Linked DNA regions of Homo sapiens. The gene in region 2 interacts genetically with the main gene of each other region. Each region holds a gene or a part of one and is shown on either strand. Other genes may lie near its edges.

Region 1 (3,849 bases), on a different chromosome or scaffold from region 2:
AAATCCTACATCATGACTGCATTCAGAAAGTCCTTGTGAGTCCAAGGAAATTTTTACTTCCTTTCTATTAAGGAACATATATATTACATTCATGAAGTATTTACTATTTTAAATAAAATTGGATTTTTTTTCAAACTATGTTGGTGACGTTTAATGAAATTACAGGGGTTTTTTTTTTTGGCTGTTGATTACTTGAGTTAGTGGGAGCCATAAAATGTTGGAACAACGAATGTTAGGGCACTGGTCAGTTTAGGGGAGGGAAGATTTCTGAAGTGCTAAGCGTTATTCTGTAGGCTCTTTAAAATATAACATTTCTGGAGATATGTGACTTTGTTTTTTTGTTTTGTTTTGTTTTTGACACAGAATCTCGCTCTGTCGCCCAGGCTAGAGTGCAGTGGTATGATCTCGGCTCACTGCAACCTCTGCCTCCCCGGTTCAAGCAATTTTTCTGCCTCAGCCTCCCAAGTAGCTGGGATTACAGGTGTGCACCACCACACCCAACTAATTTTTGTATTTTTATTAGAGACAGGGTTTCACCATGTTGGCCTGGCTGGTCTCAAACTCCTGACCTCAAGTGATCTGCCTGCCTCGGCCTCCCAAAGTACTGGAATTAGTCATGAGCCACTGCGCCCAGCCTGGAAATACATGACTTTGAAAATGCAGTCTCCCATTCAGCTTAGCAGTTGTAATTTATGACCCTACAAGCTCACTGAAGATAGTTTTTTGCACATCATGTTTCTCTCTGAATGTTGGTAGTTGGTATATGTCAGTGATAACAGACTGATAGAGTGAGCCAGTTACCTTCTGTTTTCACATTCAAGTTTATTTCACATTTAAGCTATCTTCCTTAAAGGCTCTTCTTTTTTCTAAATGTTTCAAATACAAATAAACAGTATAAACTTCCATTAGTTGGAGCAAAAAATTCACACGAATGAAATATCACTGTACTTACTTACTTTTTTTTAACGACAGAGTCTCACTCTGTTGCTCAGACTGGAGTGCAGTGGCATGATCTTGGCTCACTGCAACCTCCACTTCCTGGGTTCAAGCGATTCTCCTGCCCCAGCCTCCTGAGTAGCTGGGACTACAGGCGTGCACCACTGTGCCCAGCTAATTTTTGTATTTTTTTTTTAGTAGAGATGGGGTTTCACCATGTTGGCCAGGCTGGTCTTGAACTCCTGATCTTGTGATCTGCCAGCTTTGGCCTCCCAAAGTGCTGGGATTATAGGCTTGAGCCACCGCGCCCGGCCCCCTGTACTTACTTTTAAGAAACAGTGTTGTGATTAATTACTAGGCCTTAGTGACTGTAGTAGTGATTATGTCAGCTAATTTGCTTCATAGGCCCTAAGATATATTTTGCTGTGTATATGTCACGATAGACTAAAAGAGGCAGGAGCGTAGGTAAAACCTGTAGCTGGGGAAAAAAACAATATGTTAATGACATTTTGATTAAGGAGGCTTGTATTAATTGTTGACATTATTATAGAAGAACTAGTTGACAAGAAACTGCCCTGTGAAATCCAAAACATATAAAATCGGGATATACTTTAATTTGCTGATGGGTGCAACTTTACTTAAACCAACGCAAACATATTTCATTCACTAGTTTGTTTATTTATTCAAGTATTTGGATTCCTTCTATGTGGAAGGAATTTTAGGCACTGGGAATACAATAGAGAAGAAACCAAACACAGATCTTTACCATCATAGAACATACACCAGGAGAGGCAGATGATAAATAAATAAAACATATGGTATGTTAAATGATTGTAAGTGTTTAGTTTGAGTGGTAGATTTTGCAATTTATGATGGTCAGGAAACTCTTCACTAAAAAGGTAATATTTTATAGAGATTTGAAGAGGGCAAAGGAGTGTGCCAGAAGGAATCTGGGGTGGGGGACACTGTTCTGAGGTAAGATTCTGTTTAGTATCTTTGAGCAACACCAATGAATCAGAGCAGATGGAAAAGAGTAAGCAAGGGAGAGAACAACCACCTCACTCATATAGGATAGGCAGTTGTATGTAGAGTTGGCTTTTGCTATGTGTGAGACAGGAAGCCATTGGAAGATTTTGAGATGTGATCACAGCATGATTTTTTTTTTTAATAGTGTCACTCTATATGCTGTGTTGAGACTGCAGGGGAGCAAAGATGGAAACAGGGAGACCAGTTAGAGGGCTGTTGTGTTATCCCTGATGGAAGATGCTGATTGAGAATAGGGTGGTTGTAGTGAAAGTGTTGAGATGTTGCAGGATTCTGGATATGATTTGAAGGTATAGCCAGTGGAGTTTACTGATGGATTGGGATGTGGAATGTGTATGTGTGAGAGAGTAATAGAGTAACTAAAGATGATTCTAGGATTTTGGTCTGTGTAGCTATAAAACTGGAGTTGCCAATAACTAAGATGGGTAGACTGTGGGAGGGGCACCATTGAGGAATGATCAGGGGCTCACTTTTGGACATGCCAAGTTTGAGAAACTTATTAGCTATCCAAAAGGAGATGTTGAGTAGGAAGCTGGACATACTGATTTGGATTTCAGAAAAGCATCCCACACAATAAACTGGGGAACTGTCAAAATCTGCAATCCAAAATGCTCCAAAATCCAAAACTCTTGAGCATAAACATGACACTCCAAAGAAATGCTCATTGGAGCATTTTGCATTTTAGATTTTTCAGATTAGAGATGCTCAACCTGTAAGTATAATACAAATATCCCCAAATTTGAAAAAAATCCAAAATCTAAAACACTTCTGATCCCAAGTGTTTCAGATAAAGGATACTCAACCTATAGATGGTTTAAAGCAATGAGGCTTGATGAGATCATTGAGGGAGGGAGTGTTGCCAGAGAAGAGAAGTCTAAGGACTAAGTTGTGGGAATGCCAATATTTAAAGGTTAAAAAAAAAAAAAAAGAAAGAAAAGAAAGAAAGGAGACTAAAGCTAGAGAAGAAGAAGGAAAGTCAGGAAAAAGTGAAGACTTTGAGGCCAGGTAAAGAAGTATTTATTTCAAAGACGGAATATGAACTATGTCAAATTGCTGGTAGGTCAAGTAAGATAAGGGTTAGAACTTGATAATGGATTTAACAGTGGGGAGGTCATTGGTGACCTTGTCAAGGGCAGTTTTTGTGACAGGCAGAGCAGGAGGAGGGTAATGTTACAAATGAGAAGTTTAACTTGAGACATCACATATTTCCTCAGAGTTTAAAATGGAAATGGAGAGCTGGGTTCCTCTCTAGTTAGTGTGACTTTCATACCTTCACAGTTGCCCATCTTATTTTAGTGATTCCAAGACTAATGTGACAATTCAGCTTCAAATTTGGGGAAGCATGTTTGTTTCTTCTTTTTCTGTTTAATTCAATTTATATACAACGAGAAAGTTCAGTGCTCAGTTTAGACTTTTGATGGCAACCTAAGGGAAGAAATTGGAATGACTGGAGATGCAAATGAGATTAGAGGTGGGTGGCAGGAGAAAGTCGAAGTTGGTTCAACCAAATGGAATTTCCTTTAAAAAGTAAGGTCTTGGTGGGCATAATGGGCTTTTAGCTTAATCAGTAACTCTTGAAATTGCTGTAGGTTGGTGATGGATACAGCATAAGCAGAAGAGTTCATTCATTATAATATCACCTGCAGAAATTTAAAACATGATTTATATGCCTCAGCATCTATGAATCACTTTTAAAATGTGATTTATTTTTGACCAGATAGTTCTGCAGTTCTTCAAAATCTGTCTCTCATGCACTCAGGGCTGTTTAGCAATAAGAAATAAGTGTAGTCTCCTGTTGCCATCTGCTCATTCCACATGTTCCTTTGAAACCGAACACTGGGGCTTCCTTTAACCAAGCAGTCCTAAAGT
Region 2 (3,849 bases):
AGCAAGTCTGCTGAGGAGATTCAGGAGAGATTTTCCTCCTTCATAAAAGGGAGGAGGGAAAGAACCTCTGTGTCCTAAGCTGGCCTCTGCTAAACTGCACTAAAAAGTGCAGTTCCACTAGGACAGCAGATGCTGCTGGAATCTTATAACCAAAACAGGCCAGTCAAAAAAACCGCATTTCTGTGATATCTTTGAGCTGACCCAATTCTGTGATAGCTTTGAGCTGCTGAACTTGCTATATGAGAAATAAAGAGAACTCTTACTTGTTTAAACAACTCTAGGTTGGGGTCTCCGTCACATTCCTGATAGAAAATCTATTAATATCATTTCAGAAACCTTGACTGGCCATTGATCATGTCATATCCTGAGAATTCCCTGTGCACTGACTATCTCCCAAGTGTGTCCCCACCAAGCACCTGCTACAGTTGTGATACTGTGAGATACAGATTTGGGCTTCATCCCCATTTCCTTGCATACAACTCCTCAAATCTTTGGAATCTCCAAGGCGCTTTTTGTATGCTAATGTTGACTGATACCTTCAGGATGGGGTCCATGGTCACTGGAAAGATAGTCATGGAAAACAGAGAGGCATGATTAGAGGGTTGGGATTTTCAGTCCCACCCCACAACCTCCAGGGATCGGAGAGGGGCTGAAGGTCAAGGTGATCACCAGGTTTAATCAATCCTGCCTACCTAACAATGCCTTTATAAAAACCCAAAAGGACAGGGCCTGGGAACTTCAACATAGCCGAACACACAGAGGTTCCTGGAGGGTGGTGCACCCAAGAAGGGCATGGAAGCTCCACACCCCTTCCCCCATAGCTCACCCTATGCCTCTCTTCATCTGTATTCTTTATACTATCCTTTATAATGAACTGATAAACTTACATGTTTCCCTGAGTTCTGAGAGCTGCTCTAGCATATTAATCAAACCCAAAGGCAGGGTGGTCATGGGAACTCCAACTTGAAGCAGGTAGATCAGAAGTTCTGACGACCCAGAATGGCAACTGAAGGCGAGGGCCAAGGGGCAGTTTTGAGGCCTGAGCCCTCAACCTGTTGGATCCAACACTGTCTCCAGGTCGTGTCTGAACTGAATTGGAGGACATCCAGTTGGCGTGTGCTGCAGAACTGAATGCTTGCTTAGTGGTGGTGAAGAATCCCTCCCCACCCCAACACACATTTAGTCACGGAAGTCTTCTTCTGTGTTGTTGATTGTTGTGTTAAGTGAGAGAATAGGAATTGGGATTTTCCAAAGAGTCCACCCATATGGTTCCATGACAGCACTTACCACCCTAGACTGGGACTCTCTGTGTCCCAGCAGGCCTCGGCACAGAGCCTGCTCTGTGGTGAGTTAATAAATAAAATCCGCCTTCCCACTATATGCACCTGTGGAAAGGGGACCCACTTTTGAAGATCCACCCTGCATTCAACCCATGGAGCCTTCCATAATATGAATGTATATGGTATAATCCCACATGTAGTATGTTTTCCCTGCACATTCAGAATAAAAGCTAAGGCCTTACTCTGGCCTACAAGGCCCAACACAATCTGACCCTAGTCTACTGATCCATTCTCACTGGGCCTGGCTTGTCACAACTGCTTCCTTGATAGTAACCAAAAAAACAAACAGCCCAGTGTATTCCCAACCCAGGCTTTAGCACTTGCTGACTTGGTCCCACACGGTTCCCCAGATGCCCCATTTCCTCAGGTCTGCTCAATCCCCACCATATGACTACCGCAGAACAATGAGCAAGCCAATTTCACTGCATCTTCACAACCAGGCACACGCTGATTCTTCATCATTATCCCCATTTTGCAGATGAGGAATCTGGGTCCAAAGAGGGGAAAGTACTGCTCCAGGGGCACACAGAGAGCACAACTGGCAGAGCGGGGGTTCAAACTTCAGTCACCCTCAACTCTTCCCTCTACATTACCCACCAGCAAATCCCATCAGCCCCCCTCAACATGTCCTGACTGTAACCATACTTCCCCCCTGCATGCTAACACTGGTCCTGGGTGCTTTGTAATGGCACCTCAACAGGGCCCAACCCCTATGACAGCCAGAGGAAGGATCCTTTAAAATTATACCAGAACCCATAATTACTACTGAAAGCCTTGCAATTCCTCCTCCTCCCTCCCATCTTCAAGGCCTTCACCTTGGCCCACAGGCCTCACTTGATCTAGTCCTGGTCTAGTCCTCACCTCCCACCACTTTGCCATTCTCTCTGCCTCAGTCACACTGGCCTTTTTGCTGTGCTTTGAACGCATCAAGCATCCTCCCACTCCTGGCCTTTGTACCAACTATTCCCTCTGCCCAGACTGCTCTTCCACGACCTGTTCATTTCATTCAAATCCTTGTTCAACATCACTTCCTCAGAGCAGCTTTCTCTAACCTCCCTATCTAACAAAGCAGCCCCAGGTGCTTGCTCTATTCCCTGTACCTGTCTTATTTTGTTCTTTTTTTTTTTTTTTTTTTTTTTTGGAGACAGGGTCTTGCTGTCGCCCAGGCTCTCACCGCAGCCTCGATCTCCCTGGTTCAAGCAATCCTCCGACCTCAGTCTCCTGAGCAGCTGGGACCAAGGCCTGTGTCATCACACCAGCTAATTTTTTTTTTTTTTTTGGTAGAGACAGGGTCTCACTTTGTTGCCCAGGCTGGTCTTAAACTCCTGGGCTCAAGCGATCCTTTCACCTTGGCCTTCCAAAGTGCTAGAATTGGCCAGGGGTGGTGGCTCATGCCTGTAATCCCAGCACTTTGGGAGGCAGAGGCGGGCAGGGAGTTTGAGACCAGCCTGGCCAACATGGTGAAACCCACTCTCTACTAAAAATACAAAAATTAGCTGGATGTGGTGGTGGGCGCCTCTAATCCTAGCCACTCAGGAGGCTGAGGCAGGAGAATCACTTGAACCCGGGAGGCGGAGGTTGCAATGAGCAGAGACGGCCTGGACGACAGAGTGAGACTCTGTCTCAAAAAAAATAAAATAAAATAAAACCAAAGTGTTACAATTAGGCTTGAGCCACCACGTCCAGCAATTTTTCTTCTTAGCAATTACTGCCACTGACATCCCACTACAGATCTACTATCTGTCTCCCAAACCAGAATGTAAACCCCACAAGGGCAGCTTTGCTGTTTTGTTCCCTACTGTATGTCTAGTATCTAAAACAGAGTCTGGCACACAGGAGGTGCTGATAAATATTTGCTGAACAAATAAATCAAGACTACAGGATTTCATGTCCCATGTTCCTTCTAGTATCCTGAACTGTCTCAGACACAATTAAAATGTCTGGCATATGAATATAATCAGCAACCGTGTGTCCCACCCCAGATTCTATTCCACCCTTAGGTCCTACTTCCTTTCCTGGCTCCTTCATTTCTCAGCTGCACAGCTTTGGCCATGTTATTTATGGTGCTTCAGTTTCCTCATCTGGAAAATGTGGACAAGGACAGGACCTACTTCAAAGAGTGATTGTGAGAATTCAGTAAGATCGTCAGTGATATTCCTCTGTACTGTACCTAACATAGAGCAAGCACCCAATAATTTGTTACGCAGATGGTTTAAGTCAGAGGTCAGCAATTTTTTCCCTGCAAAGGGTTAGACAGCAAATATTTGAAGCTTTGCGGCCATCTCTGTTACAACCATGCAACTCTGGGCTGTAGCACAAAAGCAGCCATAGGAGCTTCCAGACAGATGAACACCTCGCGGTTCCTGGGGGGTGGAATGCCTAGGGAGGGCATGGAAGCTCCACACAACTTCCCCCACACCTCACCCTGCATGTGTCTTCATCTGTATCCTTTGCAATATTCTTTAGAATAAACCGGTAAGCTGCCTAGCTCTGATCCTGGCACAAAGAC

Evidence for each region. Genes that interact genetically often act in the same process or in processes that back each other up.
Region 1: changes in PPP2R1A (region 2) and WDR7 together harm fitness more than expected from each alone (negative genetic interaction), as found in Homo sapiens cells (one large-scale study listed by BioGRID).

What each region holds. Positions count from the first base shown.
Region 1 is NC_000018.10:56,657,766-56,661,614, forward strand, and holds part of WDR7 (WD repeat-containing protein 7), read left to right. Parts: intron 1-3,849.
Region 2 is NC_000019.10:52,192,720-52,196,568, reverse strand, and holds part of PPP2R1A (serine/threonine-protein phosphatase 2A 65 kDa regulatory subunit A alpha isoform), read right to left. Parts: intron 1-3,849. UniProt on the Homo sapiens protein: The PR65 subunit of protein phosphatase 2A serves as a scaffolding molecule to coordinate the assembly of the catalytic subunit and a variable regulatory B subunit.